Homo sapiens: one gene and its partners. The protein of the gene in region 1 purifies or fractionates together with the protein of each later gene. This does not show direct contact. Each region holds a gene or a part of one and is shown in the gene's direction. Other genes may lie near its edges.

Evidence for each region.
Region 2: the proteins of SNX11 (region 1) and DCAF10 purify together in Homo sapiens (affinity purification with mass spectrometry; 4 studies listed by BioGRID and IntAct, with this or other methods). This does not show direct contact.
Region 3: the proteins of SNX11 (region 1) and ORC3 purify together in Homo sapiens (affinity purification with mass spectrometry; 3 studies listed by BioGRID and IntAct, with this or other methods). This does not show direct contact.

Annotation. Positions count from the first base shown.
Region 1 is NC_000017.11:48,117,291-48,124,303, forward strand, and holds the end of SNX11 (sorting nexin-11), read left to right. Parts: intron 1-1,413; coding exon 1,414-1,509; intron 1,510-1,683; coding exon 1,684-1,896; intron 1,897-3,944; coding exon 3,945-4,218; 3' UTR 4,219-6,311; downstream 6,312-7,013. UniProt on the Homo sapiens protein: Phosphoinositide-binding protein involved in protein sorting and membrane trafficking in endosomes. Regulates the levels of TRPV3 by promoting its trafficking from the cell membrane to lysosome for degradation.
Region 2 is NC_000009.12:37,803,693-37,811,369, forward strand, and holds part of DCAF10 (DDB1- and CUL4-associated factor 10), read left to right. Parts: intron 1-7,677. UniProt on the Homo sapiens protein: May function as a substrate receptor for CUL4-DDB1 E3 ubiquitin-protein ligase complex.
Region 3 is NC_000006.12:87,593,031-87,600,707, forward strand, and holds part of ORC3 (origin recognition complex subunit 3), read left to right. Parts: intron 1-1,320; exon of another isoform or gene 1,321-1,322; coding exon 1,323-1,377; intron 1,378-1,496; exon of another isoform or gene 1,497-1,583; intron 1,584-7,677. UniProt on the Homo sapiens protein: Component of the origin recognition complex (ORC) that binds origins of replication. DNA-binding is ATP-dependent. The specific DNA sequences that define origins of replication have not been identified yet.

The DNA of each region.
Region 1 (7,013 bases):
GTTGCCCAGGCTGGAGTGCAAGGGTACAATCTCAGCTCACTGCAAGCTCCGCCTCCCAGGTTCACGCCATTCTCCTGCCTCAGCCTCCCGAGTAGTTGGGACTACAGGCGCCCGCCACCACGCCCGGCTAGTTTTTTCTATTTTTTAGTTGAGATGGGGTTTCACCGTGTTAGCCAGGATGGTCTCGATTTTCTGACCTCGTGATCCCCACCCACCTCGGCCTCCCAAAGTGCTGGGATTACAGGCGTGAGCCACCGCGCCTGGCTGTTTTTTTTTTTTAAAGGAGAGATGAGGTTTCACCATGTCGCCCAAGCTGGTCTTGAACTCCTGAGCTCAAGTGATCTGCCCACCTCGGCCTCCCAAAGTGCCAGGATTACAGGCATGAACCATGGCACCAAGCTGGGAGTGGGTTTCATAAACAACATAGTGTGGCTCGGCTTGGTGGCTCACACATGTAATTCCAGTGCTTTGGGAGGTTAAGGAAGGAGGATCACTTGAGGCCAGGAGTTTGAGACCAGCCTGGGCAACAGAGCAATACTGTCTCTACAGATACATAAGTAAACAAATAAATAAATTAGGTGCACACAGTGGCACGTACCGGTAGTCATAGTTATTCTGGGAGGCTGATGCAGGAGGATTACTTCATCCCAGGAATTTGAGGCTGCGGCGAGCTATGCTCACGTTTATGCTACTGCACTCCAGCCTGGGCAACCTGGAGAGAGCAGCTTGGAAAGCAATACCTTGTCTCTAAAATCAAACAGACAAAAATAATGTATCAGCATGGGTTTTATAGTCATAGATCTGGTTCTGATATGAGCTTTGCTGCTTATTAGCTGTGTAACAGTGAGACATTTACTTAACTTCTCTGATCTGAAGTGAGTTAATATCTTTCTCACGGGGTTTTGGGATGACTAAATGAAATCATGTTTATAAAACATTTAGCACAGTCTGGCTTGACACTTGGCATGCAGTCAATGTTAGCACCACCCCTTATTAAAAGCTAATTGGGGCCAGGCACGGTGGCTCATGCCTGTAATCCCAGCACTTTGGGAGGCCGAGGCAGGCAGGGATCACGAGGTCAGATCAAGACCATCCTGGCTAACATGGTGAAACCCCGTCTCTATTAAAAATACAAAAAATTAGCTGGGTGTGGTGGCCTGCACCTGTAATCCCAGTTACTCGGGAGGCTGAGGCAGAGAACTGCTTGAACCCGGGAGGCAGACGTTGCAGTAAGCCGAGATTGTACCACTGCACTTCAGCCTGGGCGACAGAGCGAGACTCCATCTCAAAAAAAAAAAAAAAAGCTATTTGTATTGATTAGACCTCTTTTTAAGGGATTTCCTTGATCAGAGGCCGGAATGACTATCTTAGATGTTACACTTATCATGGGTGTTATATCATGTGGCTGCACAGGCCTGTTCCTGAACTTCCTGGGAAGTCAACCTTCTTCGGCACCTCAGATGAGTTCATTGAGAAGCGACGACAAGGTCTGCAGCACTTCCTTGAAAAGTGAGTGGACAGAACGGCTGGTGCTGGCCACCAAGGGTGGAGGCAGGGGTGGAGGAATGTGCCAGGCAGGATGGAGCTCCCTGCTCAGGTAGCCAGAAGTTCTTAAGAGGATGGGGAATGGAGAGCAGTTCCTCAGGGTGATGCTCTGTGTTGTGCTACCTGTGTTTTTCCCAGGGTCCTGCAGAGTGTGGTTCTCCTGTCAGACAGCCAGTTGCACCTATTCCTGCAAAGCCAGCTCTCGGTGCCTGAGATAGAAGCCTGTGTCCAGGGCCGAAGTACCATGACTGTGTCTGATGCCATTCTTCGATATGCTATGTCAAACTGTGGCTGGGCCCAGGAAGAGAGGCAGAGCTCTTCTCACCTGGCTAAAGGAGACCAGCCTAAGAGGTAACTGGAGTACTCTTTGAGATAGCAGGGGCTAGGTTTGCTATAACCTGGACCAGAGAGGTGTCCATTTGTTAGGGAAAGTAATGTCATAGCATTGGTAGCCTTTCACAACCTTTCTTGTTCTTTGGGTGCGTGGCTTTCTATCCAGGTGGGTCTGTGTTAACCCACCACTGGGTAGCAGGGGCTCCTACTGAAACCTGGGGAGAAAGAAGGGAAAGCTTTCTCATTTATTCGGTTTTTTATTCCTCCTCCCTCCCTTTTTATTTATTTATTTTTTTGTGTGGAGACGGACGCTCACTCTTTCACCCAGGCTGGAGTGCAGTGGCGTGATCTCGGCTCACTGCAACCTCTGCCTCCTGGGTTCAAGCGATTCTCCTGCCTCAGCTTCCTGAGTAGCTGGGATTACAGGCAAGTGCCACCACACCTGGCTAAGTTTTGTATTTTTAGTAGAGACGGGATTTTGCCATGTTGGCCAGGCTGGTCTCAAACACCTGACCTTAGGTGATCCGCCTGCCTCTGCCTCCCAAAGTGCTAGGATTATTGGCATAAGCCTGGCCTAATAGCTTTATTGACACACAATTTACCTGCCATAAAGTTTACCTTTTTAGATACAGTTCAGTAGTTTTTAATATAGTCACAGGGTTGTATAACTGTCAGCCACCACAGTCAATTTTAGAACATTTTCATCACCCCGAAAGAAACCCTGTACCCATGAGTAGTGACTCCCCTGTCCTTCCCTCCCCCCCAGCTCCTGGCAACCACTAGTCTACTTTCTCTGTCTATGCATTTGTCTATTTTGGACATTTACACAAATGGAGTCATATGATTTGTGGTCTTTTGTAACTGGCTTTTTTCATCTAACAATGTTTTCAAGGTTCATTTGTATTTTATCATGTGTCATTACTTCATTACTGTTTTTTTCTCTTTTTTTCCCCCATTTTTATGGCTAAATAGCAGTCCATTTATATGGTGCTATATACCACATTTTGTTTATCCATTCACTTGCATTTATCTGTTTTTTTTTTTTTTTTTTTTTTTGAGACAGAGTCTTGCTCTGTTACCCAGGCTGGAATGCAGTGGCATGATCTCGGCTCACTGCAACCTCCGCCTCCCAGGTTCAAGCAACTCTTCTGCCTCAGCCTCCCTAGTAGCTGGGATTACAGGCACCTGCCACCACACCCAGCTAAGTTTTTGTATTTTTAGTAGAGATAGGGTTTCACCATGTTGGCCAGGCTGGTCTCGAACTCCTGACCTCAGGTGATCCACCCGTTTCAGCCTCCCAAAGTGCTGGGATTACAGGTGTGAGCCATCGCACCTGGCCTTTTTTTTTTTTTTTTTTTTGAGATGGAGTCTTGCTCTGTTGCCCAGGCTGGAGTGCAGTGGCACGATTCAGCTCACTGCAAGCTCTGCCTCCCGGGTTCACACCATTCTCCTGCCTCAGCCTCCCGAGTAGCTGGGACTACAGGCGCCCGCCACCATGCCCGGCTAATTTTTTTTGTATTTTTAGTAGAGACGGGGTTTCACCGTGTTAGCCAGGATGGCCTCCATCTCCTGACCTCGTGATCTGCCCACCTCGGTCTCCCAAAGTGCTGGGATTACAGGCGTGAGCCACCACGCCCGGCCTCTTTTTTATTTTTTTAAATTGAGATAGGGTTTCACCAGGTTACCCAGGTTGGTCTCCACCTCCCAGACTCAAATAATTCACCATGCCCAGCCATTTTTTTTTTTTTTAATCGGGCAGCCTCCTGAGTCAGAACAGGCTCAGAGAGACTTCCCTTTCTGTTCATTTTTGTTTATATGTTCATACTTTTTTTTCTGAGACAGAGTCTCACTCTGTTGCCCAGGCTGAAGTGCAGTGGTGTAATCATAACTCACTGCAGCCTTGACCTCCAAGGCTCAAGCAATCTTCTGGCCTCAGCTTCCTGAGTAGTTGGGATTACAGGCACATGCCAACATCCCTGGCTAATTTATTTTTTTGTAGAGACGGAGTCTCCCTATGTTACCCAAGCTGTTCATACCTTTCTTTTCCCTTTCCCACTCTTTTCCAGTTGCTGCTTTCTTCCAAGATCGGGTAGGAGGAGCTCTCCCTCACCGCCTCCCAGTGAAGAAAAGGACCATTTAGAAGTGTGGGCTCCAGTTGTTGACTCTGAGGTTCCTTCCTTGGAAAGTCCCACTCTCCCACCCCTCTCCTCACCATTATGCTGTGATTTTGGAAGACCCAAAGAGGGAACCTCCACTCTTCAGTCTGTGAGGAGGGCTGTGGGAGGAGATCATGCTGTGCCTTTGGACCCTGGTCAGTTAGAAACAGTTTTGGAAAAGTGAGCTCTGGGTTCTGCTCTGAGATGGTCAGAGAAGATGCGGGCCAGGAGACTTACTCAGGTGGGACTGGGCACAGGGCAGGTATGTGGGAGGCTGGGCTGCTTAGTGTCTTCTAGTCACCTCTGCTTGGGCTGATTGACAGAGGTCAGTCATTACAGCCCCTTATGCCTCTTCCATGGGAACAAATACTGTGCAGATGTTTGTAAGTTAAACATAAGACACAGGGGCTGTTGCTTTTGAACAGAACCCTATATTACTCTCCTGGGATCTGAGTTTCTGCAGGTCATTTGTATGTAGGACCAGGAGTATCTCCTCAGGTGACCAGTTTTGGGGACCCGTATGTGGCAAATTCTAAGCTGCCATATTGAACATCATCCCACTGGGAGTGGTTATGTTGTATCCCCATCTTGGCTGGCTTCAGTTTTTGCTGTAGCCCTAGAGCACTTTGTTTGTGGGAGGCTGGCCTCTTGCCTACCTCCTTGCATGGACAGGGGGATGAATATTTACTTTCCCACCTCCTTGCTTTTTCTTTCACTGATACCACTGAATGGAACTGGTGCTGTGACTCCTGCTGCTGGGGATTTATGTCCCGAGACCTTAGCCTGGCTGAGTGGAGCCTGAGACCTGCACAACAGCTCATGGTCATGCATGAGAGAGAAGTGGCTGGCCACAGCCAGAGGGAACAGTAACAGCCCAGGGGCCTTTATTTTGGGAAAGGCTGTCCCGGGCTGTTACTGTCTCTTCTGGTTATAAAGCAGACATGTGGCCATCTTTTCCGCAGGGTTAGAGTGGGCTCCTTTCTTTTTGGAATCCTTTTCTTCTCCTTTGGTAGCAGCTCCCTGCCTCCAGGGCTTCCGCCACCAGCGTCTCTGCTGTGTTGCGCAGTGCAGTGGGGTGCAAGGGCTTTGTTTCTGCCTGCCTGAAAGAGAGGGCTCTGGGGATGGAGATGAGAAACAACACGCTCTCCTTCAGACAATGAGGCATTCTGTCCTCCTGCTGCCATTCTTCATCTCCACTGAGAGCCAGAGCTGGTAGGAGCCGAGTGCCACAGGCATTCTGCATTGCTCTACTCTTAGGTTTGTGTGTGTGATCCTTCCCCTCCCTGTCGCCCACTCCTCCCTCCTCTGGCTATCCTACCCTGTCTGTGGGCTCTTTTACTACCAGCCTATGCTGTGGGACTGTCATGGCATTTAGTTCAGAGTGGAGGGGCTTTGGCCTGAAATAAAATGCAAGTATTTAAGATTGTTGTTGCAATTTGTGTCTAACAAGCTGTAGCAGAGAAGGAGGGAGTGAGCGCTGGCAGTATTTCCTTTCATAAATCATGAATTTATCAGTGTGGAAATAATGCTTCAGAACTGTGCTCTGTAGCCCTCCTGCATTGTGTGTGCAGCTCAAGTTCACCACTGGAGGAAGGATTGTCTTCCAAAGAGCTGGGATCCAACTCTTCTCACAGTTCTGGGCGTGAACCTTGTTAGGTATAATTTACCTGATGCTGCTTCCATCCTCGCAGTCTGTCTGAGGTGCCAGGTGCTGAAAGAGAAATAAAGTTTGTCAACAGGCAGATGCAAAGCCCTGGCTGGTATTCATCCCTCTTTCCTGCCCGCCTCCCCTGGGTCTCTCCTTTATATGATGCAGCAGAGCAAGGCGAGGATAGAAAACCTACAGAGGCAAATCCAAAATGTCAGAAGAAGTTCATTTAAAAGGGGAAAAAAACTCCATGTGCAACCCTCACAAAAACCCGACAGATGCTAAGCTAATGGCATCCGCTCTGCCGATTGGTGGGGATGGCTCATGAATATTAATGAGCCCAATGCTCCAAATGGTGCAGCTGTGAACCCAGCTGTGCCTGAAGCTCTCTGATCTCGAAACTTCCAGACAGGAGCTGGAGGTGGTCTGTGTCAATTCCCTACTCAGCCAAAAAAACAGCAAGCTGGGTTGGCCTTCTTCTGTTTGCTCCTTTTCTTCCTGGAGTTGGTGCTCAGCAGCTAGTTCTGCCAGCCGGCTAGGCTGCTGGGACAGCAGGAGCCATTCAAAGACATGGATGTGATTTTTCTGACTCCCAGCTTTTTTAATGATCCATTAGCAGCATGCATACAACAGCACCTCAGTTAATCTAAGGCCAGGCACCATCTCTTTTCAGTCTCTCTCTTAACTGAGTATAGGCCTTGGAAGGAGAAGTCCTAGGAAGGAAAGCACTTTTCTAATAATACAAGCCTAGGGTCATCCGAAAAATAGCGCACATGAGTTTTCCTCTCCATCCAGATAGTGCCATAGGCCCCTCTTCTGTTTTGCTCTGTCCCTGCGTGTGCCCAGGTCTAGCCACTGTGGCCAGATGACCTCTATGAAAGATGGAGGATTAGCTGTGGGGAGTGGCTCATTGAGCTGTTTTGTAGGATAAAAATATTTTGTTTAGAATTTAGTTTTGAGTCAAGTTCTGTCCTGATGTAGTCACCTTTCTTCTGTCAGATACCTCCATGGCCCACATCTAGTCATCCATTACCCAGGATGACTGATTCCAAGCTTGTGGAGGTTGTTTGGTGGGAGGAAATGTGTTTGTGTGTGAGGGGGGTGTTTTCTTACATTAAAATACTAAGTTTTATAAACATAATTTTATTGGCCCTTCTCAGTGCCTAGCAAGGAAGGTAGGTTAGGTATATGCTCCTTTTTTCGTTGAGGAAACTGAGCTCAATGTTTTTGTGTGTGTTTTTTTATTTGTTTGTTTGTTTGTTTTGAGATGGGCAGCCTTTGCTGCCCAGGCTGGAGTGCAGTGGTACAATCTCGGCTCACTGCAACCTCCA
Region 2 (7,677 bases), on another chromosome or scaffold:
AAAGTAATTTTACAGATAGATGACATATCCGTGTTAAATGAGGTAATTTCTCATATCTTTCAGTTAAATATGAGTTAAATCAGCTTACCAGGTAGCATAACCACTGTCACCCTCAAGGACTTCTCAATACAGAGAAGGAGGGGGTGACACAGAATGTAAAAATTAAAATTATGAATTTAATAGAGACCACAATATAAGGAATTTGGCAATAAAAAAGATAAATGGGTTAGAAGGTATTTTCTAAAGAATTCAAAAAATGTTTTAAGTGATAGAAACATTGTCAAAATAAGTGTATCACCTTCTAAAATGACATTTTGAAAAAGTAAAATTGATAATGTTAATAAATTATAGTATGTCAGACCCTGTCAAACTGTCCTCCATGAGAACACATTAGGCACAGCTATAGAGATAATTCACATATTGGAAAATAGAAGCAAAGAAACTAACTAGAATACAGACCTGGAAAACACAGAGATTGAAAATATGAAAAGGAGATTTAGTAACACAGAGCATAGAGAGAAAAAGCATACCATATAGTTAGCCAGAGTTCCTAAAGAAAATAGTCCCAGTTTCTTCAGGAACTCTGGCTAACTATATGGTACGCTTATACCATATAAGCATATCATATGGTGTAAGGGGGACTATTTGAAGACATAATAGCTGAGAACTTTCCAGAATTGAAGAAAGGCACCAAGCCATGATTTAAGAAGCCCAACAAACCCAAGCAAGAATTCTTTCTAGACATATTGTAGTGAAACTGTGGGACAATAAATATAAAATCTTAAAAGACAGAGGAAAAAGGGGCCGGGTACGGTGGCTCACGCCTGTAATCCCAGCACTTTCGGAGGCTGAGGTGGGTGGATCACCTGAGGTTGGGAGTTCGAGACCAGCCTGACCAACATGGAGAAACCCTGTCTCTACTAAAAATACAAAACTAGCCGAGCGTGGTGGTGCATGCCTGTAATCCCAGCTACTCAGGAGGCTGAGGCAGGAGAATCGCTTGAACTTGGGAGGTAGAGCTTGCGGTGAGCCAAGACCGTACCACTGCACTCCAGCCTGGGCAACAAGAGCAAAACTCCATTTAAAAAAAAAAAAGTAGAGAAAAAAGGCCTCAAAGGAGCAACTATGAGAGTGATAGCCAATTAGTCTTCAACCATAATATAAATATAGAGACAGTGGTAATTATTTCAATATGCTAGGAAAAAACCCTCAGTCTAGATTTATACCCAACAAACATAGGTTCTTTGTCCTTGCCAAGAACAAAGATGAAATAAATACATATTCAGACAAGGAAAGCTGAGTAAGTTTGCCAGCAGACCTCCAATAAAGGAATTCTAAGTTCAGAGAGAAGGAAATTATTTTCAAACGGAAGGTCTGAGAAGCTAGAAGGAATGAAGAACAAAAAGTGTTAAATATGTATGTACATGTTAATCTGATAATGTCTTTTGGGATTAATAGAGATGGAACAAAAATAGAAGACAATAATAGCATATAAATTATGAAGTGAGGCCGGGTGTGGTGGTTTATGCCTGTAATCCCAGCACTTTGGGAGGCCGAGGCGGGCGGATCACTTGAGGTCAGGAGTGTGAGACCAGCCTGGCCAACCTGATGAAACCCTGTCTCTACTAAAAATACAAAAAAATTAGCCTGGTGTGGTGGCATACACCTGTAATCTCAGCTACTTGGGAGGCTGAGGCAGGAAAATCACTTGAACCTGGGAGGCAGAGGTTGCAGTGAGCGGAGATCACATCACTGCACTCCAGCCTGGGTGACAGAGTGAGACTCCATCTCAAAGTAAAATAAAAATAAATGATAAGTGACATTCTAAGTTTTTATGTATTTGGGGGGATAATAATATATGTTAACTTTGGGCTTTAATAGGTATTTAAAATTTTCAAGGAACCAAAAGACAAGAAAGATTATAATTTCCAGACTAGTACAAGAAAAAGTACAGAATGAGAAAAAAATTCCAAAAGAAGGCAAGAAAGGAAAAGAAAAAAAGACAAGATATAATAAATAAAAAGCACAAAGAATAGCTGAAAATAAATCCAAACATTACTAGTTGCAATAACTATAAGGTACTAAATATTCTAATTAAAAGACAAAGAGTAGCTTGGCGCAGTGGCTCACGCCTACAATCCCAACATTTTGGGAAGCCAAGGCAGGTGGATCACTTGAGCCCAGGAGTTTGAGACCACCCTGGGCAACATAAGGAGACCCTGTCTCTACAAAAAGTACAAAAATTAGCTGGTTGTGGTGACGTGTCCCTTTGTCCCAGCTACTCAGGTGGCTGAGGCAGGAGGACCACTTGAGCTCGGAAGGTGGAGGCTGCAGTGAACCAGGATTGTGCCACTGCACTCCAGCCTGGGCAACAGAGACCCTGTCTTGCAAAAAATAAAATAAAATTAAAAAATAAATAAAAGAACAGTACCTCTTAAAATCTTACTCTTAATGGCATTCGTAGACTACATTCAGGCCTGCTATTCAGCTGATACTGGTTCAGCTATACTAGTTGTTAAAATATTGATATGTCCATAGTGGTTGAACAGTTACTGTCCCAAGCCTGTTAAGTGTCATCTTAATGCTTCATCGCCTTCCTTGGGACTTCCTATAGTAACCAATTATATAGCAACTAAAGAGTTAAGAACTAGGACAGCAAGAGACTGTCAGCAAACATCTCACTGGAGAACTACAGGGCAGCAGCCATTCTAATTACTCCTCACCCGTGCCTGGCAACCTCCAACACACAAAAAAATCCATAGGCCCAGTGACCATCTGGCTTCCCTAAGAGTAGGGCTGCCTACCTTTCTCATATCACTCTCACATGGCCCCTTTGGGAACTACAGCCCCGGGAGATCCAGAAAGAAGAGCAGTCAAATGAGAGTAATAGTACTGTACTACCGCAGTTGCCATCAAAATATATTAATTCTCTTGGCACAGTATACATTCCCATGGCAGGATAGAATCTACAGCAGATGATCGAGGCCTGTGGGGATGGTTTATGGATGAATAACTTCTGGGATGCACATCCTTAGTTTTATCATTCTTGTTTAATTTCCCCATTATTTAGATAGGATAAGTGTGCCAACACCCAATGAATACCTGCCTACAGTAGGCATTAATGACACTCATGTTATAAATGAAAATGACTACCAAAATACATCTTTTTCTGTCTACCAGACACATTTAGTTGGGGGAATTAAGAAGCAGAAAGTTTATTAAATGAAGGTTCTGTACCTTGGTGTATGCTGTTAACTGCTGTGTTACGTTACCTCTCACCTGGACTGAGGGATTAGGTTTAATATAATTAAGTATATCAATAAATTATTTTTGTGACTTAGTTATTAATATATTTAAACAAATATTGACTATATGAAACTAACAGCAAGCATTTGAAGGGCTAAAAACATTTTAAAATATACTTACTGTTACTTCAGCAAAAGCCAAAAAGAGGATTCAGCTCCCATGAACAATTCTGTTGATGTTAAGAGTGATTTCTTTTTTTTAGGCCAGGTATGGCAGCTCATGCCTATAATCCTAGCACTTTGGGAGGCTGAAGGTGGAGGATTGCTTGAGCTCGAGTTCAAGACCAGCTGGGGCAACATAGGGAGACCTTGTCTCTACAAAAAATTTTAAAAAGTGTGATTTTTTTTAACGTATCATGACTACAAGTTATTTAATGACTATAAATTTAATGTGGACATTCTTAGAAGGGCTTTATCTAGTTTCCTATGTCAATTCATGGTTCAGACAAGGGCATCTGTGTCAAATAAAAGATTATGGCTACAATTTCCAAAAATTAATAAATGATTGAAAATTACTAGAATGATTTAATGAACAATTTGAGCTACAATGGTTATCACCTGGTGAGCATTTTTATAATCTATATAGGTTAATTTATTTAGAAAATGTTTTTAAATTTTATTTATGTTAATTTATATTACCACTGAATTTTCTTTTCTTTTCTTTTTTTTTTTTTTTTTTTTTGAGACAGAGTTTCACTCTTGTTGTCCAGGCTGGACTGCAATGGCGCGATCTTGCCTGAATGCAACCTCCAGCTCCCAGGTTCAAGCAATTCTCCTGCCTCAGCCTCCCAAGTAGCCGGGATTACAGGCATGCACCACCACGCTCGGCTAATTTTGTATTTTTAGTAGAGATGAGGTTTCACCATGTTAGTCAGGCTGGTCTTGAACTCCTGACCTCAGGTGATCCACCCACCTCAGCCTCCCAAAGAGCTGGGATTATAAGTGTGAACCACTGTGCCTGGCCTGAATTTTTAACCTCTTTGAATATCACACTTAACTGTATGTAACAGCCGCTTCATCCTTATATTTTTCAAACACACAAGGAACAGTTATAAAATTTTCACATATGAGACCACAAGTTTCAAAAGATTGGTATCATACCGAATACAGTTTCTCACCACAATGTGATCACTAGAAGTAAATAAAAAGATAACTAGCTGGCATGGTGGTTCATACCTGTGATCCCAACACTTTGGGAGGCTGAGGCAGGTGGATCACTTGAGCCTGGGAGTTCCAGACCATCCTTACAAAAAATACAAAAATTAGCCAGTTGTGGGGCTCATGCCTATAGTCCTAGCTACTCAGGAGGCTGAGGTGGGAGGATCACTTGAACCCCGGAAGCAGAGGTTGCAGTGAGCCAAAATCGCGCCACTGCACTCCAGCCTGGGCGACAGCCTGGGCGACAGAATGAGACCCTGTCTCAAGAAAAATATATATATTATATTATGTAAAAGTATATTATATATAATATAAAATATATATTTATATAATATATAAATATATAAAACATATATTTATATAATATATTATATAAATATATAATATATGTAATATATAAAATATATAATACATAATATATAATATAAAATATATTTATATAATATAATATAAAAATATAATATATTTATATAATATAATATAAAAATATATAATATAAAATATAAATATATTATATAATATAAAATATAAATATATATTTATATATTTATATTTATATATAAAATTTATATATAAAAATATATAAAAATACATACATAAAATATATATTTATATAATATATATTATATATTTTATATTTTTGGAAGTCAAGAGACAAGTATAATTAAAAAGATAACCAGAGACCTGGCACAGTGGGTCACACTTGTAATCCCAGCACTTTGGAAAACTGAGGTGGGAGGATCTGGCAGGAGTTCAAGACCAGCCTGGGCAAGGAAGAAAGACTGTCTACAAAAATTTAAAAATTAGCCTGGTGTGGTGGCATGTGCCTGTGGTCCTAGCTACCCAGGAAGGTGAGGCAGGAGGACTGCTTGAGCTTCAGAGTTTGAGGTTGCCACTGCATTCTAGCCTGGGTGACAGAATGAGACTCTGTCTCAAAGAAAAAAAAAAAAAAAGATAACTAGAAAAGTCTCATTCATTTTCAAAAAGAATTGATAAATTCATGGGTCAAAGGGGAAATTATAATGGAAATTAGAAATGTTCAGAACTAAATGATAATGAAATCATATGTCTCAAAACTTGTGGGATACAAGTAAAGCTGTACTTAGTAGGAAAATTATAGTCTTTAATAAACTGATAAGGAAAATTAATGAGCTAAGTATTCATCTCATGAAAGAGAATAGCAAAGTTATCTGCAAATAATAGGAAAATCAATCTAAAGAGAGCAGAAGGAAATATAGTAAAAAAAAAAAAAAGGTAGAAATTAGTGAAATTTTAAAAACCATCAGAAATACTGAATAGGGACAAAGTTTTGTCTTTGAAAACACTTATAAAAATGAAAAACATCCATGGTACTAAGAAAATGCACAGATAATATTCAGAATAAAAAGAGGGACATAGGTCGGCACAGTGGCTCACACCTGTAATCCTAGCACTTTGGGAGGCCGAGGCGGGTGGATCACCTGAGGTCAGGAGTTCGAGACCAGCCTGGCTAACAGGCGAAGCCCTGACTCTACTCAAAATAAAAAAATTAGCCAGGCATGGTGGTGGGCGCCTATAATCCCGGCTACTCCGGAGGCTGAGGCAGGAGAATCGCTTGAACCCGAGGGGCGGAGGTTGCAGTGAGCCAAGACTGTGCCACTTCACTCCAGCCTGGGCAAAAGAGCGAAACTCTGTCTCAAATTAAAAAAATAAAAGGGTTAGGGGGAGCGGGGCGGCCGTGCGCGGTGGCTCACGCCTGTAATCCCAGCATTTTGGGAGGCCAAGGCGGCTGGATCACCTGAGGTCAGGAGTTTGAGACCAGCCTGGCTAACATGGTGAAACCCCATCTCTACTAAAAATACAAAAAAGTAGCTGGGCATGGTGGCAAACGCCTGTAATCCCAGCCACTCAGGAGGCTGAGACAGGAGAATCACTTGAACCTGGGAGGCGGAGGTTGCAGTGAGCTGAGATTGCGCCACTGCACTCCAGCCTGGGCAACGAGAGCGAAACTCCATCTTAAAAAAAAAAAAAAGTTGGGGGGACAATTTTATATGCAAGAGGTAGATTGTTTGGACCAAACTTCCAACTGAGAATAATCAGAAAAGCTAGAGAAAATATTAAATATTTAATGTAAGATATAGAAAGCTTATGTGTGAGGGGATTAGAGCATTATCAGGGAAATGAAGAAATTGCAGGGTCAAGTTCTAAAAAATAGGAAAGCCAGTGATGTGAGCCCAGCATTTGAGCTCGCTTCTCTGAGAGACATCTGTCAATCTCAAAAGCAGCAGCAGCAATGAGGCTGAATGGTATTTCTTTCTTTCTTTCTTTCTTTTTTTTTTTGAGACAGAGTTTCATTCACTGTTGTTGCCCAGGCTGGAGCGCAATGGCGCAATCTTGGCTCATTGCAACCTCTGCCTCCCGGGTTCAAGCGATTCTCCTGCCTCAGTCTCTGGATTAGCTAGGATTATAGGCGCCTGCCACCACGCCCGGCTAATTTTTGTATTTTTAGTAGAAACGGGCTTTCTCCATGTTGGTCAGGCTGGTCTCGACCTCCTGACCTCAGGTGATCTGTCTGCCTCGGCCTCCCAAAGTGCTGGGATTACAGGCTTGAGCCACTGCGCCTGGCCTCTGAATGGTATTTCTAATGGACTCATGGGTGGGATAGATGAGATTACAAGAATTGCAATTTAGGATCCGCAATTTAGGTTTGGGATTGAAACTCCCCTCCCCTCACCCAGTATACCCTAGGACTAAAGGTGAATCCAGAATCGACAGTACTCATGGGGACTAAAGGCCAGCTTCAAATAATCTCATTCCCTACGTAGATTAAGAAGACCTCAGATTGCCGGCACCTCTACTCTAGCTTACTTGCCATAATTAAAGATGAATCTTCTATGGAAGAAGAAAATATGCAGCTGAGTGCCGTGGCTTACACCTTTAATCCAAGTTCTTTGGGAGGCTGAGGAGGGAAGATTAATTGAGGCCAGGAGTTGGAGACCAGTCTGAGCAACATAGTGAGAGATCCCATATCTGCAAAAAATCTAAAAATTAGCTGGGCAAGGTGGTGTGCGCCTGCCATACTAGCTACTCTGGAGGCTGAGGTGGGAGGATTGTTTAAGCCCAGGCGTTTGAGGTTACAGTGAGCTATAATCACATCACTACACTTCAGCCTGGGTGACCAAGCAAGACCCTGTCTCTAAAGAAATTTTTTTAAAAATATAATATATCATCCAGT
Region 3 (7,677 bases), on another chromosome or scaffold:
TGCAGTGAGCCAGGATCGCACCATTGCACTCCAGCCTGGACGACAGAGCGAGACTCTGTCTCAAAAAAACAAACAAACAAACAAAAAAAAACTATAAGCTATCCATCATGTATGACTTTAGAATTGGTAGAATAGACTAGGACCACTAACTTGGGGGTGATCTACCACTGGTCAAACAATAATATGAAACTAAACATAGCTGGGAAATTACCAGGACAGTTATTTGGCAAGCATTTATTCATTCCATATTCTGATTGCCTAATATGTATGTTAGCACTATTCCAAACATTGGAGAAACAATTATAAATAAAATACAGTTTGTGCTTGAAGGCACTCACAGTCTACTCAGGGAGACACACCCATAAACAACTACGATATACAATTAAAGTGACTTAAAACAATGCAAAATAAAGATGTTCAAGTACTGAGAGATCTCGAGGAAAGGAGAATTTCTGGCTAGAGAATTGTGAAAGGTTTCCTGAAGGAGATGAGTGTTGAGTCAAACTTTAATGGATAAATGAGTAGGCATTTATCAGATGAAGAGAAGTATGTAGAGTGAAACAGCTGCAATTATCTATTTACTACTAAGGTTATAGATACTTCGAGTTTAAATAAGTTTCGGGTTGGGAGAACATCACTATTTTCAACCTTTTTAATCTTCATTTTTATTTATTTATTTTTTGAGACAGAGCTTCGCTCTTTGTTGCCCAGGCTGGAGTGCAATGGCACGATCTCAGCCCACTGCAGCCTCCATCTCCAGGGTTCAAGTGATTCTTCTGTCTGAGCCTCCCGAGTAGCTGGGATTACAGGCTCACACCAACACGCCTGGCTAATTTTTGCATTTTTAGTAGAGACAGGATTTCACCATGTTGGCCAGGCTGGTCTCAAACTCCTGACCTTGTGATCCACCCGCCTTGGCCTCCCAGAGTGCTGGGATTACAGGCATGAGCCACTGTGCCCAGCCCATTTTAATGTGTAGTATTAATTCCTTTAAGTTTATGAAAATGGAACCTTTCTGGGCTTAAATTTAATCAGCTTTTATTTTCTTTGTCTACCTCTTAGATCAGGTGTCAAAGAGCAAAATCAAAAATGGGCATCTCATGGGAGGGAGGGGAGAGAGTAGATAGTCCCCCTTGTTGTTTTAGAATTTTCCTTCTATAGGTCAGAGAGAAGTGATGTGATTTCTTAGAACCTGAAAGAAATGTGTTCTCTCCCCTAACATCTTTTTTTAAAAAAGTGCTTACCCATAAAATATTTGGTTAATCAGATTTCTCTGCTCCTTGGCTACTTTGACTTTATGCTTTTCGTCTTTCTTTTTATAGGGTTGCTTTGTTTTTAAGCCAAACTCCAAAAAGAGAAAGATCTCTCTGCCAATAGGTAAGGTGTCTGAATATTAAATTTTTTATTCCCTACCTTCTTAAACTATTAGGAACTAACCCTAATTGAATTTAGTAATTCTCTTGTCTAACCTTGGCTTACTTGCCATGTTGATGTAGCATTTATGTTCCAAGGCATTGGTCAAAGAGATAAGAGGACACCCCAGGGCTCTAATTGAAAAGAGAATCCAATTACACCTTCCAAAGGTAAGTTGGAAGCAAATTTCCTTCAAAGGATATGCTGCTATTCTTTAAAAGAGATTGTCTTTTTGATTACTTCTCTGCCATTGTTTTTTTATCTACAACTTTAGAAATGAAAGTGAGTTTCTGCTAGAGAAACATTTTGATCCTTGATGAAGTAATCAAAACAATAAAGGCTGACTGGCAACCCAGATTTCTAATGATGGGGGAAATGTTATTTAGAAAATAAAATGATAATTGGTAACATAAGGAAAACCTAAGAAAGAATGATTATAAATTTGTATATATTTTCTAATGAAAATTGTATAAAAATTATTTTTGAGTTAAAATACAATATTCATGGGGAGACTTAAATATGCTTAAAAATTTTGATGTGATATTCCATTTTATGAATAAACTTGGCAAAATAAATTAAAGCAATCATCTATCTGTATGGAGCATTTTAGAACTTAGGGCTTAGTAACTACATGTGTGTTAGAATACTGCATGTTCTAACTTAGGGATAAATGCTGTGCACATCAATACATGCTGAGAAAAAAGCCCAAGGTCTTGGATCTCTTACAGTAATTCTACCTGCTAGAGCACAAAGTTATGGAATCACCTGGACTATAAGTAAAGGAATTGGAGTGTGATCCTGAGCCTGACCAGCTCTATGGCTTTGGCCCTGCTGTTTAACCTTTCCCTAAGTCTCTTCATCTGTAAAATGAGCAACTATACTCACTTATCACTAAGATTTCTCCCTATTCTCATTCTATCTCTCTAAGAGCTAACATGTAGTGCTTTGTAAGACTATCATAAATACCATGTGAATAAATTTGTGTTATTATGGATTGTTACCACCTTGGCCTTATAGTTTGTGTTCCAAGACTCCTATCTCTCACTAGCCTGAGGGAAGGGAAAAAGCTGAGAATGAGTAGCAGAAGACTTTCTACTCTCACAATGGCTACATATTTCCAAGTGGCCCAGATTTCCTCTCTTAGTCTTCACATCCTTTCTACCAGTTTGCACCCTCCATCATCTCTCGGAAGCACCAGGGTCCCACACAGTTCTCAATCACTCTTCATTTCATAAAACAAATTTGTTAAATTATTGAGTTTTAATCACTCATAGACACACATACTCATGATATTAAGGGAGTGGATTTTTATCACTCACTCAGACATACGCATACTCACACACTCATATACCCATGTGTGTAAGAGAGGAAAGACATTTCTTTTGGTTTTGTTTGTTGATTTATTTTAGAGACAGGGTCTCAGTCTGTCACCCAGGCTTCAGTTCGGCGGCCTGATCATAGCTCACTTCAGCCTTGAAAACTCCTGGGCTTAAATGATCCTCCCACCTCAGCCTCCCAAGTACCTGGGACTACAGGCATGCGCTACGACGCCTGGCTAATTATTTTTTAAAATTTTTTGTAGAGACAGGGTCTCACTTTGTTGCCCAGGTTGGTCCTGAATTCCAGGGCTCAAGTGATCCTCCCACCTCAGACCTCAAAGTGCTGGGATTACAGGTGTGAGCCACTGTGCCCAGCCTAATTTGTTTGTTTGTTTTTGTTTTTTTTTTTTGAGACGGAGTCTAGCTCTCAGCATGATCTCAGCTCACTGCAACCTCCGCCTCCCAGGTTCAAGCGATTCTCCTGCCTCAGTCTCCCGAGTAGCTGGGACTACAGGCATGCGCCACAATGCCTGGCTAATTTTTGTATTTTTTAGTAGAGATCGGGTTTCACTATGTTGGCCAGGCTGATCTCGAACTCCCGGCCTTGTGATCTGCCCACCTCAGCCTTCCAAAGTGCTAGGATTACAGGTGTGAGTCACTGTGCTCGGCTGTTTGTTTTTTTGTTGTTTTTTTTTTTTTAAGGCAAAAACAACACAGGTTGTGTTAAAGTCCCAGTGGTTTCCTGGGATGAAGTAGGGGGAATTAACTGCAAAAAGGCAAGAGGGAACTTTCTGGAGTGATGGAAATGTTCTCTGTTGACAGAGTGGTTATGTAAGTATATACCTGGGTCAAACTGTTAAAATGGTTGTGTTTAATTATTTGTAAATTATACCTCAATAAAATTCAATTAATAAAAAAAGATACTGTCTTCACTTTTTTCATTTATATCCTGATACCTGTTTAGTGATCAAATTAAGAAGACTTGACTTCTTCAATCAAATCCAGTATTACTATCAGAATGTATTTATTGCACCGGTTCTCAATCATAGCTTCACATTAGAATCATTTGGGGAACTTTGAAAAGTCTTATTTTAATATAATTGTAGATGCACATATAATTACAGGTAATACTCTTCCACCAGTAAGTACCCTACGACCAGTTATCCCCAGTGGCAGTATCTTACATAACTATAGTACAGTGTCACAATTAAGAAACTGATATTAATACAATCTAGTGACCTTATTCAATTCCAACTTGTGGGACTTTGAAAAAATGCAGGGTGAGAGTTCCTTATCCCAAATCTTGGGACCAGAAGTGTTTTGGTTATTGGAATTTTTTCAGATTTTGAAATATATACCTGTATATAATGAGATAATCTTGGGAATGAGACCCAAGTCTAAAAATAAAATTCATTCATGTTTCATATACACCTTAACCACATAGCCTGAAACGAATTTTACATAATATTTTAAATAATATTGTGCATGAAACAAAGTTTTGGCTGTGTTTTGACTGCGACCTGTCACTTGAGGTGAGATATGGAATTTTCCACTTGTGGCATCATGTTGGTACTCAAAAAGTTTCAGATTCTGGAGGATTTCAGATTTTTGGATTAGAGATGCTCAACCTGTGCCAATGCTAAGACCCTAACCCGGATCAATTGAATTAGAATCTCAAGAGTGGGGCCTAAGTGTTAGAATTTTTCAAAAGCTCCCCACAGGGTTATTGAGTATATACATTCCATATTCAGCACTGTGAAAATTAATTCCAGTGGAAAAATTATGATATGGAATTAAGCATACCCATGTACTAGTTTTGAATTGAAAAAATGAACTATGCCACTGTTTGACTAAGGAAATAAATGGATAACTTGAATATATAGAATAGGATTTTTTTTAAGTAATGATATATATATATACACACACACACACACACACACACACACACATATATATATAATTTTTTTTTAAAATAGAGATGGGATCTTACTATGTTGCCCAGGCTGGTCCTGAACTCCTGAGTTCAAGTGATCCTCCCACCTTGGCCTCCCAAAGTGCTGGGATTACAGGCGTGAGTCACCATGCCTGGCCACACATTTCTTTAATGTTGCAGATTGCTCAACTTACTAGAAATAGGTCAGAGAAAATTAAAGACTTGTTCCCCCATTATCATTAGGGACACATAGCATGCAGTGACATCTAATATCATCACCAATGTAATTATAACTAATACAGTTGTTAATATTTCTTGGATGTTTACAGTGTGCCAGACTGTTTTGTTTTTCAAGACAAGATCTCACTCTGTCACCCAGGCTGGAGTGCAGTGGCACAATCATAGTCCACTGCAAACTTGAGCTCCTGGGCTCCGGGAATCCTCCTGCCTTAGCCTCAGCTAGGACTACAGGCTCATGTCACCTTGCTTGCTAATTTATTTATTTTTTTTTTAAGGTGAGATCTCACTTTGTTGTCCAGGCTGGTCTCAAATCCTGAGCTCAAGCAGTCCACCTGCCTTGGCCTCCCAAAGCGCTGGGATTATAGACCCAGACTGTTTCAATCATTTTATATGTGTTAATTTGATTAATCCCCTCAGCAAACTACAAGGAATGTATTATCGCCATTGAAATATATAAGGATACTTAGACATATAACTTTCTCAATGTTATAATGTTAGTAAATGATAGAGCTAGGATTTGAACCCAACCTGTCTGATTCCAGAGCTCATGATTTAACCATAGCTTAATACTGCCTCTCATTATATAAGGCCAAGTTTCTATTTAGAACTTTTTGTATTGAATTTAAGCTACAACTTATTAGGATTGGTTTATAGTTTTTAGTACTAGTAAACCTGATGTGTATAATTGTATGATTTGAATTTTGCTTTAGAAGTTTGCTAGGCTTTTTTTTTTTTTTCATTATGTGGCTCTAAGACCAACGGGTAGTGTTATAATACGAAAATCTTTGAGGAATTGACCCTGATTATAAGGCAGATGGAGCAGGAATGAGGGAAACATACCCAGACTTTAACATTTGCCTTCACTGGCTTCAGTTGTTGAAACAGATTGACTGAAGAAGTAGGAAGATGCTCTGCATTTTGCCCACCATCTGTCCCCTGACTGAAGACACTTGGGCACGTAATTAAGACTGGTAACTCTCCCTCTCCTCAGTATTCTGTGGATGACTGCATATCCAGCAAAACAACTGGATAGGAACTGGAGAGAGAGAGACTGGCAGCAGCACTGGCACTGTAGGAGATACCCACACTGAAGTATAGCACTGTGAATAGGAGCCGAGGCAGGTAGAAACCTGGCAACAGTGAGAGCTTATATTCTTCAGTGTAGTTTTTAAATTTACCTACCTGATCTGTAACAGACTGAGAGAAGTCATGGTAACAGTTTAAAGTATCCTACTGCTGTGTTTCCCAGTTTCTAAGAGGTTTTTCATGTGTATTTTGATGCGGCATTATTCTGCACATAAAAATTGTGTCTTGATTTGCCACTTTCATGTTATGCTATGATTTTACCTATTAATGTAAAGTGACTATTTTTGTTCTTTTTAAAGCTACCTTGTTGTTCTGCTTTGTCTCTTTTTTTTATTATTTATTTATTTATTTATTTATTTATTTTGAGGCAAGGTTTTGCTCTGTCGCCCAGGCTGGAGTGTAGTGGCACAATTTCAGCTCACTGCAACCTCTGCCTCCCAGGTTCAGGTGATTCTCCTGCCTCAGCCTCCTGAGTACCTGGGACTACAGGTGTATGCCACCACGCCCGGCTAATTTTTGTATTTTTAGCAGAGATGGGGTTTCACCATGTTGGCCAGGGTGGTCTCCAAGTCCTGAGCTAATGAACCGCCCACCTTGGCCTCCCAAAGCGCTGGGATTACAGGCATGTGCCACCACGCTGGCCTGCTTTGTCTCTTAATAATAGTGTCCTCTGGCTAGGTGGGGTGATGTACGCCTGTAATACCAGCACTTTGGGAGGCCAAGGTGGGCAGATCACTTGAGGTCAGGTGTTCAAGACCAGCCTGGCCAATGTGGTGAAACCCCGTCTCTGCTAAAAATATAATTAGCCAGATGTGGTCGCGGGCGCCTGTAGTCCCAGCTACTCGGGAGGCTGAGGCAGGAGAATCACTTGGACCTGGGAGGCGGAGGTTGCAGTAAGCTGAGATCTCACCACTTCACTCCAGCCTGGGCAACAGAGCGAGACCCTGTCTCAAATAATAGTAATAGTAATAATAGTGTCTCCTTGCTTTCTTTTTTTGTTGGCATTTTAATTCTATAACCTTGTCTGCCACTTTACCGTACGATGACTTCAATGTATTCCAAGGCTTTTGATAAAATTAAAAATCAATAGTTGCTAAAAACTCTGAGTTAACTATGATTAGGAGAGAAGTTCCTTAACATGAAGTGAATTTATATTCCAAACTATCAGTTAACATTAAAACTTGGTGGTAGATTATTAGCAGCAGAAATTTAACGTGAACACTCCAGTTGTTACAATAAAATACGTAGCAGTAAACAACAAGAAATATGAGGGAAAGTAGAAAACTATAAGGAATCTAAAATATTTGATTAAAAAAAGAGACCTGTGATATTGGGGTTGGGGATTTTTTAACATATTAAAGATGGGATTTTTCCCCAAATCAGTCTATGGATTTGATTTTATCTAGTCAAATACCAGTACAACTAGTTTTGAGAAGTGACAGGATTACTGTAAAATTAATTTGAAGAAGTGGCTTAAATTTTTTTGAAAGAGAATAACAATGTTTGGGGGCAGTGGGAGGAAGACCTAAATGTATTTGATAAAATGTACAACATACAAAGCCATAATAATTAAAACAGTTCAAGACTGGTAGGAGAATAGGGTTGGATTCAGTAGAACAAAATAAAAAGTTCAAACATAGTTCAAAGTATATATAAGTATTTAGACTATAAGGGCATGTCAAATCA